3 separate regions of the Homo sapiens genome follow, and regions 2 and 3 are each linked to region 1. The links come from fine-mapping of genetic effects on gene expression. A gene starts in region 1. Each other region holds a variant in brackets. All regions are shown on one strand. Distances are between the middles of the regions.

Evidence for each region. PIP is the estimated chance that this variant, and not a neighbour inherited with it, causes the effect. A credible set is the group of variants that fine-mapping cannot tell apart.
Region 2: its variant is the best candidate, but not a certain one, in a credible set for the expression of AVIL in blood mononuclear cells (TOPMed, PIP 0.59).
Region 3: its variant is the best candidate, but not a certain one, in a credible set for the expression of AVIL in whole blood (INTERVAL, PIP 0.67).

The regions. Positions count from the first base shown.
Region 1 is chr12:57,817,077-57,819,838 of GRCh38, forward strand. It overlaps AVIL (advillin), which reads right to left and starts at 1,658. Exons shown (of 20, transcript NM_006576.4): 1 at 1,553-1,658.
Region 2 is chr12:57,657,861-57,660,622 of GRCh38, forward strand. No RefSeq gene overlaps it. Among named protein-coding and RNA genes, the nearest start is that of B4GALNT1, 26 kb to the left of the region's middle. The variant G/A (reference allele first, on the strand shown) is at 1,479.
Region 3 is chr12:58,134,680-58,137,441 of GRCh38, forward strand. No RefSeq gene overlaps it. Among named protein-coding and RNA genes, the nearest start is that of LINC02403, 48 kb to the left of the region's middle. The variant C/CT (reference allele first, on the strand shown) is at 1,333.

The sequences.
Region 1 (2,762 bases):
TACCCATGTCCAAGGCCACGTAGAGGCTTTATAGAATTAAAATACCTGCTCTCAAGGAGCTTGAAATCTGATAACATGCATAATTAATGTAAAGCTAGATTAATTTCTCCCAAGAGGCAAAGGAAAAAGGATGGGGTTGATGGATTTATGTAAGATTTAAAAATTCACCCAGAAAGGACTGTATGCATTTTTGCTGTTTGGGGACATACTGTTTGTTAAGAGGAACATGTCTGACCATTGTTTTCTTGAACCTTGATGGACAAAGCCAAGTTTGGAGAGCATGCGCCATCTAGTATGGACTTTGGCAAAAAACCATAAAGCTCAAAGCAGACTCGCTTTGTCTACTGCTGTAGCAGGACTAAAGCAAGGCAATGGTGCGGAGCAGCCAGTGTTTGAGAATTTAATTTGATAACTTGTGCTGCCCCACCCTGTGCTGCTCAGAATTGCCAGGAAATATGGTGTTTGGGTTTTCTTCAGACCCTACGTAGCAGTCATTAAAGGCAAAAGCCATGAGCCAACTAGGGGAAGGGGACAAGGGCCACTGAATTCATTCCTTGGAGACAGAGAACTGTCACCCTGGTAAAAGCCAAACCAGCCGGCAGCAATTAGGACTGTGAGCCTCAGAGGCTGAAACCTGTCCCGTTTCCCAGCAGGAATTTAGGAATCAAGGAGCTCCCTGGGCCAGGCACCCCGAATGCGAGAGGATAAGCTCCAGGAAGGGACTTCCTGTCACACTGGAACACACAGAAAACACAGTTCTGACATCAAATCTCCCAAAGCTGGGTCTCTCCTTCTCCCTAAATCCTAATTCAGTATCCTTTGAGAGGACTGCAGAAACCCCTTGGGTGTGGGGCACAGTTTTGAAATGTCAGGTTAAAAGCCAGTGGCCTGTAATTCTCAGAGATGCCCTTTTGGACGGACCCTGAGCAGAGGAAGCTGTTTTTTGTTGTTGTTGTTTTTGAGACAGGGTCTTGCTCTGTCACCCAGGCTGGAGTGCAGTGGTACAATCACGGCTCACTGCAACCGCCACCTCCTGGGCTCAAGTGATCCTTCTGCCTCAGCCTCCTGAGAAGCTGAGACCACAGGTGTGCACCACCATGCTTGGCTTTTTTTTTTTTTTTTTTTTTTTTTTTTTTTGTAGAGACAGGGTCTCACTATGTTGCCCAGGATGGTCACAAGTTACAAACTCCTGGGCTCAAACAATCCTCATGCCCTGGCTTCCCAAAGTGTTGGGATTACAGGTGTAAGCCACCTCTCTGGGCCAGGAAGCTGGTTTTAACTCCTCCTGCCTTGCTCCATACCATCTTTCTCTAGGGATAGGTGAAAGGGGTCTGTCTTTCCCAGCTTTTGAAAATGTGCCCTATATGTTCAGCTGCCTCTAAGGGGTTCTTCTGAACAAGAAGTTTGCAAAACTGGCCAGCCAGACTCCTGGTTCATTTTAAAAGCCTCATCTCAGAAGACAAAGCCAAGGGACTCTCAAGCTCCTCTTCCTTTCATTTCTTCCTCATTCAGGAGGATTAACTGGCATGCCCCCGTAAATCAGAGACCTTACCTTGCCTTCTCGCTCACCAGCCTTCCCAGTTTCCCGGCGCGTAAGCAGCAGCAGTATTGAAGAACCACTCCAAAGCAGGAGGCTCCAGGTCCTGCTGCCTTAGCTTAGTAATGGCCGCAGAGATACTGGGTTATATTTGCTTGTGTTTGCATCTTAACCGCATTTTCCTAGTCCTGGCCAATCAGAGCCAACCTAGCACTGAGCTTGGCTTATTCAAACCAGAGGGAAAGCTTTATCTGTGCCTATTCAAAACAGCAAAACAGAAGAGCAGACTTTTAAAGGCTTCTTTGAACTCCAGCTCCACGCCCTGATCTAATTGATTTTTTAAAAAGTGCACACAGCCCATCAATAATGCAGGAAAGAGGTTGGAAGGATATGAAATTTGCCATATTGTAGATATGGATGCATTATGGTGATGACAGGAGGAAGAGGCTGGAGCTGCCCCATGAGTGCCTGTGATGTCTAGGTTGGCAAGAGCCTCCCTAAGAAGCTTCTGGCATTTCTCAAAGGGAGGGGAAGTCTGGGAGAGGAGCCAGAATTTTATTAGGCCACAGTTTTGCTCGTTGGGGTCTCTACTAGTCATACAGTAAACCAATCAATATTTGAGTGCCTGCTGTTTGCCAGGAACCATGCTGGGCTCTCAGCTTCAGGGTTTCCAGTTTGGAAGAATCAGTGAGGGGCAGAGAAGAATCAAGACTCCATTCCCAGGGCTGGGTGTGGTGGTGGCTCACGCCTGTAATCCCAGCACTTTGGGAGGCTGAGGTGGGTGGATCACAATGTGAGGAGTTTGAAAACAGCCTGGCCAAGATGGTGAAACCCCATCTCTACTAAAAATACAAAAATGAGCCGGGCGTGCTGGCAGGCGCCTGTAATCCCAGCTACTCAGGAGACTGAGGCAGGAGAATCGCTTGAACCTGGGAGGTGGAGGTTGCAGTGAGCTGAGATCATGCCACTGCCTCTAGCCTGGGCAACAGAGCAAGACTCCATTTCAAAAAAAAAAAAAAAAATAATAATCCATTCCCTTAGGGCTTCTGGTTCATGCCCAGAAGTCAATAGGACATCAAGCATATACACGTGCTAAGCACCTGACTGCAATGGGGTTGATCACAGCAGAACTTGTGTAACCTTGAGCGGAAGCCCTGTGTGGCATCTGCAGCTGGCCTCCCGGTGGGTGCAACACCCCACTCAGCCCGGGGGTGCAGCTGCTTCA
Region 2 (2,762 bases), 160 kb before region 1:
TGTGTCCACTGATCTCTCAGAGTGACTGGGGATCGTGAGTAAGCTTCCTCTTGGATTTCAGAGTTCCACAGACTTGTGTTTTGAGCTCTCCAAGTTCCTTTGAGCAAATATCTGGTTCAAACTAGGTTTGGAGTTGCAACAGAAACTGGACTGGGTCCAGGAATGGATTTGATCCAGTAATGAACTGGCTTGGATCCAATTAGAGGTGTCTTACATCTGAATGGGTCAGAAAGGAACTGGTAGTAAGCAGTAATATTTCAGGGATTATAAAATTTGGCTTTTGAAACTTCACAGGGATTTTTGTGTTCTACCCTTTTGCTTCATTTTTCTTGCATGCTTAGGTAGGAAAAATTATTGGCTAAGTTAAGAGAACCTGAGAGTAAAGCCAATATTTTAGGTAAAAATGGGATCCTTAATTTCTGGAAAACTGAGTTCCTTCTGGCTTATACTTTAGGCCTGGGAGGCAGCGAAGTCTTACAGAAATGGCAAAATCTTACTAAAGATAACTTACAGTGGAATGTTCTGAATGAACAGCAATGCATTGAAGTACATTTAAAAATGAAGACCCTTGACCAGGCGCAGTGGCTCATACCTGTAATCTCAGCACTTCGGGAGGCCAAGGCGGGCAGATCATGAGGTTAGGAGATCCAGACCATCCTGGCCAACAAGGTGAAACCCCGTCTCTACTAAAAATACAAAAATTAGCTGGGCATTGTGGTGTGTGCCTATAATCCCAGCTACTCAGGAGGCTGAGGCAGCAGAATCACTTGAACCAGGGAGTTGGAGATTGCAATGAGCCGAGATCGCAGTGGAGATTGGGCCACTGCACTCCAGCCTGGCAACAGAGTGAGACTCTGTCAAAAAAAAAAAAAAAAAAAAAAAGGCTCTCAGTAAAGTCCCTTTTGGCTAAGAACAAATTTGGCACTACAGGATGTCAACTGCTATTCTCTTTGGAATAATCTGCCTTGCACTCTTTGCTGATGACTATGGGTGACAGGATTAGGCATAGAGAGGGTCGTGGGACATGGGGAGTGTTTTCCTTCCCCAAAAGGGGAAACTTGAGAGCTGATGGGACTGTTGGAAAAAAAAATCCCTTCATGACAGCAGCTGCAGCCACCTGAGCTTTTCAATGTGGGTCTTTCTCTAGACTCCCTGAGCATTTTGCCTTCCCACCCCGCCACAGGCAATGCTTTCTCTCTCTCTCTCTCTCTCCTTTCCCTTTTTTATCTTTTCTGTTACTCAGGGCAACCATCTTGCCCAGAGACCACGTGTCTCTAGTTTAATCCAAACTCCTAGTCGGAGGTTGGATTAAAGATGAAGGGGCCCATGTGAGGGCAAATTTAAGGCTTATCAGTTTGATATTGGGTGATAAGAAGAGTGGCCAATGTCTATGTTTTATTACACATATTTTACTCTGGTCAGAACCAAAAAAGATAATTTTCCTTTATGATGCAGCTTGGCCCCCAGCGTGATGATGC[G/A]GCAAGCTGGGTCACTGGGGCCACTCAGGGAAAAGGAACCCAGAAGCCTGGCATGCTGGCAAAAGGGTAAGAATTTTTTTCTTTTTTTTTTTTGAGTCAAAGTCTCGCTCTTTTACAAGGGCAGTGGCATGATCTCAGCTCACTGCAACCTCTGCCTCCCAGGTTCAAGCGATTCTCCTGCCTCAGCCCCCCGAGTAGCTGGGAGTACAGGTGTGTGCCACCACACCTGGCTAATTTTTGTATTCGTAGCAGAGACGGGGTTTCACTATGTTGGCCAGGCTGGTCTTGAACTCCTGACCTCATGATCTGCCCGCCTCGGCCTCCCAAAGTGCTGAGATTACAGGCATGAGCCACCACACCCAGCCAAGGGTAAGAATTTCTTACCAGTCAGATTTCTGGTTTCTCTCTCTCTGTGCGAACAGTTGAATGAATGGTAAAAATCACTGTTTACTCCTCTGTAAAGTTGTGATTAATGCAAAAAAGAATTCTGAGGCCAGTCTCATACTGATGTATTTGTGCTATGAACTTGTTTTTCTGTGTTGAGGGGTACCTTAGGATAAAACGTGGGCTTAGGGCCCCATAAACTCGCTGCCCAAGATGACCCAGCAAGCTGGTTGATAACAAACTTTCCTGCCTGTCCCTGAAACAAACAAACAAACTACTGGATGGGGTCTCCATCTTGTTTTATGTCCTTGGGTGCTTGACCTTATAACCATGTGGCAGTACTTTCTCTTGGTCTCTGCCTTCCAGGGAACAGGAATTTTAGGGTTTATGTCATAGGTTGCTCTAAAAATTATCTTGAGTAGATAAAAGGCTTTGCAAGCTCAAAATTAACTACTCTAGACTTCTTCTGGGAAGGGCAGCAGAGACTACCCTGTTCTGTAGCTCAATAGCTAGTGTTTTGGCATTTCACGCTGGCAGTCCAGGTTTGATTCCCTCTTTAGGAAGTAAGTCATTTCTGGTTTAATATCTGCATAACTTTGTCTAGTCTCTTCTCCATGGACTATCTTAAATTTTCCTTTCTCTGGCCTAGTGTGGTGGCTCATGCCTGTAATCCCAGCACTTTGGGAGGCCAAGGCAGGTGGATCACGAGGTCAGGAGTTTGAGGCCATCCTGACCAACATGGTGAAACCTCATCTCTACTAAAAATACAAAAATTAGCTGGGCATGGTGGCACACAGCAGTAGTCCCAGCTACTCAGGAGGGTGAGGCAGGAGAATCGCTTGAACCCAGGAGGCAGAGGTTGCAGCCAAGATCGCTCCACTGCACTGCAGCCTGGTGACA
Region 3 (2,762 bases), 320 kb after region 1:
AGGAGGTAAGGGGCTTTGTTTTTCTCATATTTGAAGAACATTTTTTATCATGGGAAAATAGAAGTTGAAAATAGTATAATGAAGCTCCACACGCTCATCTTAAATACCTATTAACATGTCATCATACTTGTTTTTATTTTTATTTTTTGGTTGAAGAACTTTAAAGCATATCCAGGAAAATCTGATACTTTTTGTGCTTAAATAGTTCAATACATTTACACATCTTTAAAAATAAGGACATTTTCTTCATAATCACTATACTACTGTAGAACCCAACAGTATTAGCAATATTTCTATAATATTATTTAACACCCAGCCCATACTTGGAATTTCTCCAAAGTGTCCTTTTTTTTTTTTTAACAGTTAGTTTGTTTTAATCAGAGTGCAAATAAGGTACACACATTTGATTGCCATGTCTCTTGACTCCTTTTGATTTATAAAGGTACTCTTACAGCCACCACTCCTTTTTAACACATGCCATCAACATGTTGAAGACTGGGTCATTTGTCGTGTAGAATACTTCTCATTTGGGATATGTTTGGTTGCTTCCAAATGATGTCATTTAACCTATCCTTCTTTCCCTTGTATTTCCCATGAATTGGAAGTTAGAGCTAGAGTCTTGATTAAGTTCAGATTCAACATTTTCAACAAGGATACTTCATAGCTAGAGCTGGGTACACCATATTACAACCTATCAGAAGCACATGCTGCTTTCTAGTTTTAGGGATGCTAAGAGTGATCATCTCGTACTTCTGTAATAAAGTTGCAGCCCCCCACCCCACACTGCCACCACTTACTTATGCTTATGTCAAATCAGTGGTTTGTCACTTTGGTACAGTTATTGTTATCCTTTCATCTAATTGTTTTTAGCAACTATTAAAGGTTGCTTAAGCAATTATTTCATTAGGGATTGCAAAACGGTGATTTTTTAATGCAGTAATTCTTGCTACATTTATTAGTTGAAATTCTTCTACAGAGTTTTTTTCTACCTAAACTAGAACTATTTGGTGTTCTGAAATACTTTTTTTTAAATAAGAAAGGCAAGATGAATTCTAAATTCATTCTCTTTAAAGAGATTTTCTTTTGTCTTTTAAAAAAAGATTCATCATGGATTTTTATATAGTCAGTGTATTCCAACCAATCACAATCATTATTCATTTTGATGCTCAAATTGTTCCATCTCTGGCCAGTTGAAGCCCCTTTAAGTTGCTTTCAAACACTTTTGAAGAGTCTCATTAAACTTTGATAGCTTCCTTACTTTCTGGAGCACAAAATGCTCCAAGCTCATCTTGTATGTTTCATGCCCCAGACCTGGAAACAGCTTTTTCTTTT[C/CT]TTTTTTTTTTTTTCTTTACTTTAAGTTCCGGGATACTCTGCAGAATGTGCAGGTTTGTTACATAGGTATACGTGTGCCATGGTGGTTTGCTGCACCTACTCAACCTGTCACCTAGGTCTTAAGCCCCACATGCATTAGCTATTGTCATGATTCTCTCCCTTCCACTGCCCCCTCAATAGGCCCTGGTGTGTGTTGTTCCCCTCCCTGTGTCCATGTGTTCTCAGTGTTCAACTCCCACTTATGAGTGAGAACAAGTGGTGTTTAGTTTTCTGTTCCTGTGTTAGTTTGCTGAGGATGATGGCTTCCAGCTTCATCCATGTCCCTGCAAAGGACATGATTTCATTTCTTTTTATGGCTACATAGTATTCCATATGTACCACATTTTCTTTATCCAGTCTGTGATTGATGGGCATTTGGGTTGGTTCCATGTCTTTGCTATTGTGAATAGTGCTGCAGTAAACGTATGTGTGCATGTATCTTTATAACTGAATGATTTATATTCCTTTGGGTATACACCCAGTAATGGTATTGCTGGGTCAAATGGTATTTCTGGTTCTAGATCCTTGAGGAATCACCACACTGTCTTCCACAATGGTTGAACTCATTTACATTCCCACCAACAGTGTAAAAGCGTTCCTATTTCTGCACAGCCTCGCCAGCATCTGTTGTTTCTTGACTTTTTAATGATCATAATGATCCTCATTGTGACTGGCATGAGATGGTATCTCATTGTGGTTTTGGTTTTCATTTCTCTAATGATCTGTGATATTGAGCCTTTTCTCAAATGTCTTCTTTTAAGAAGTGTCTGTTCATATCCTTTGGCCACTTTTTGATGGGGTTTTTTTTTCTTGTAAAATTGTTTAAGTTCCTTGTAGATTCTGAGTATTAGCCCTTTGTCAGATGGGTAGATTGCAAAAATTTTCTCCCATTCTGTAGGTTGCCTGTCCACTCTGATGATAGTTTCTTTTGCTGTGGAGAAGCTCTTTAGTTTAATTGGATCCCTTTGGCAATTTTAGCTTTTGTTGTAATTACTTTTGGTGATCTCATCATAAAATCTTTGCCCATGCCTATGTCCTGAATGGTATTACCTAGGTTTTCTTCTAGAGTTTTTATGGTTTTGGGTTTTACATTTAAGTCTTTAATCCATATTGAGTTAATTTTTGTATAAGGTATAAGGAAGGGATCCAGTTTCAGTTTTCTGCATATGGCTAGCCAATTTTCCCAGCATCATTTATTACACAGGCAATCCTTTCCCCATTGCTTGTTTTTGTCAGGTTTGTTGAAGATCAGATGCTTGCAGATGTGTGGTCTTATTTCTGAGGTCTCCATTCTGTTGCATTAGTCTATATGTCTGTTTTGGTACCAGTACCATGCTGTTTTGGTTACTGTAGCCTTGCAGTATAGTTTGAAGTCAGGTAGCATGATGCCT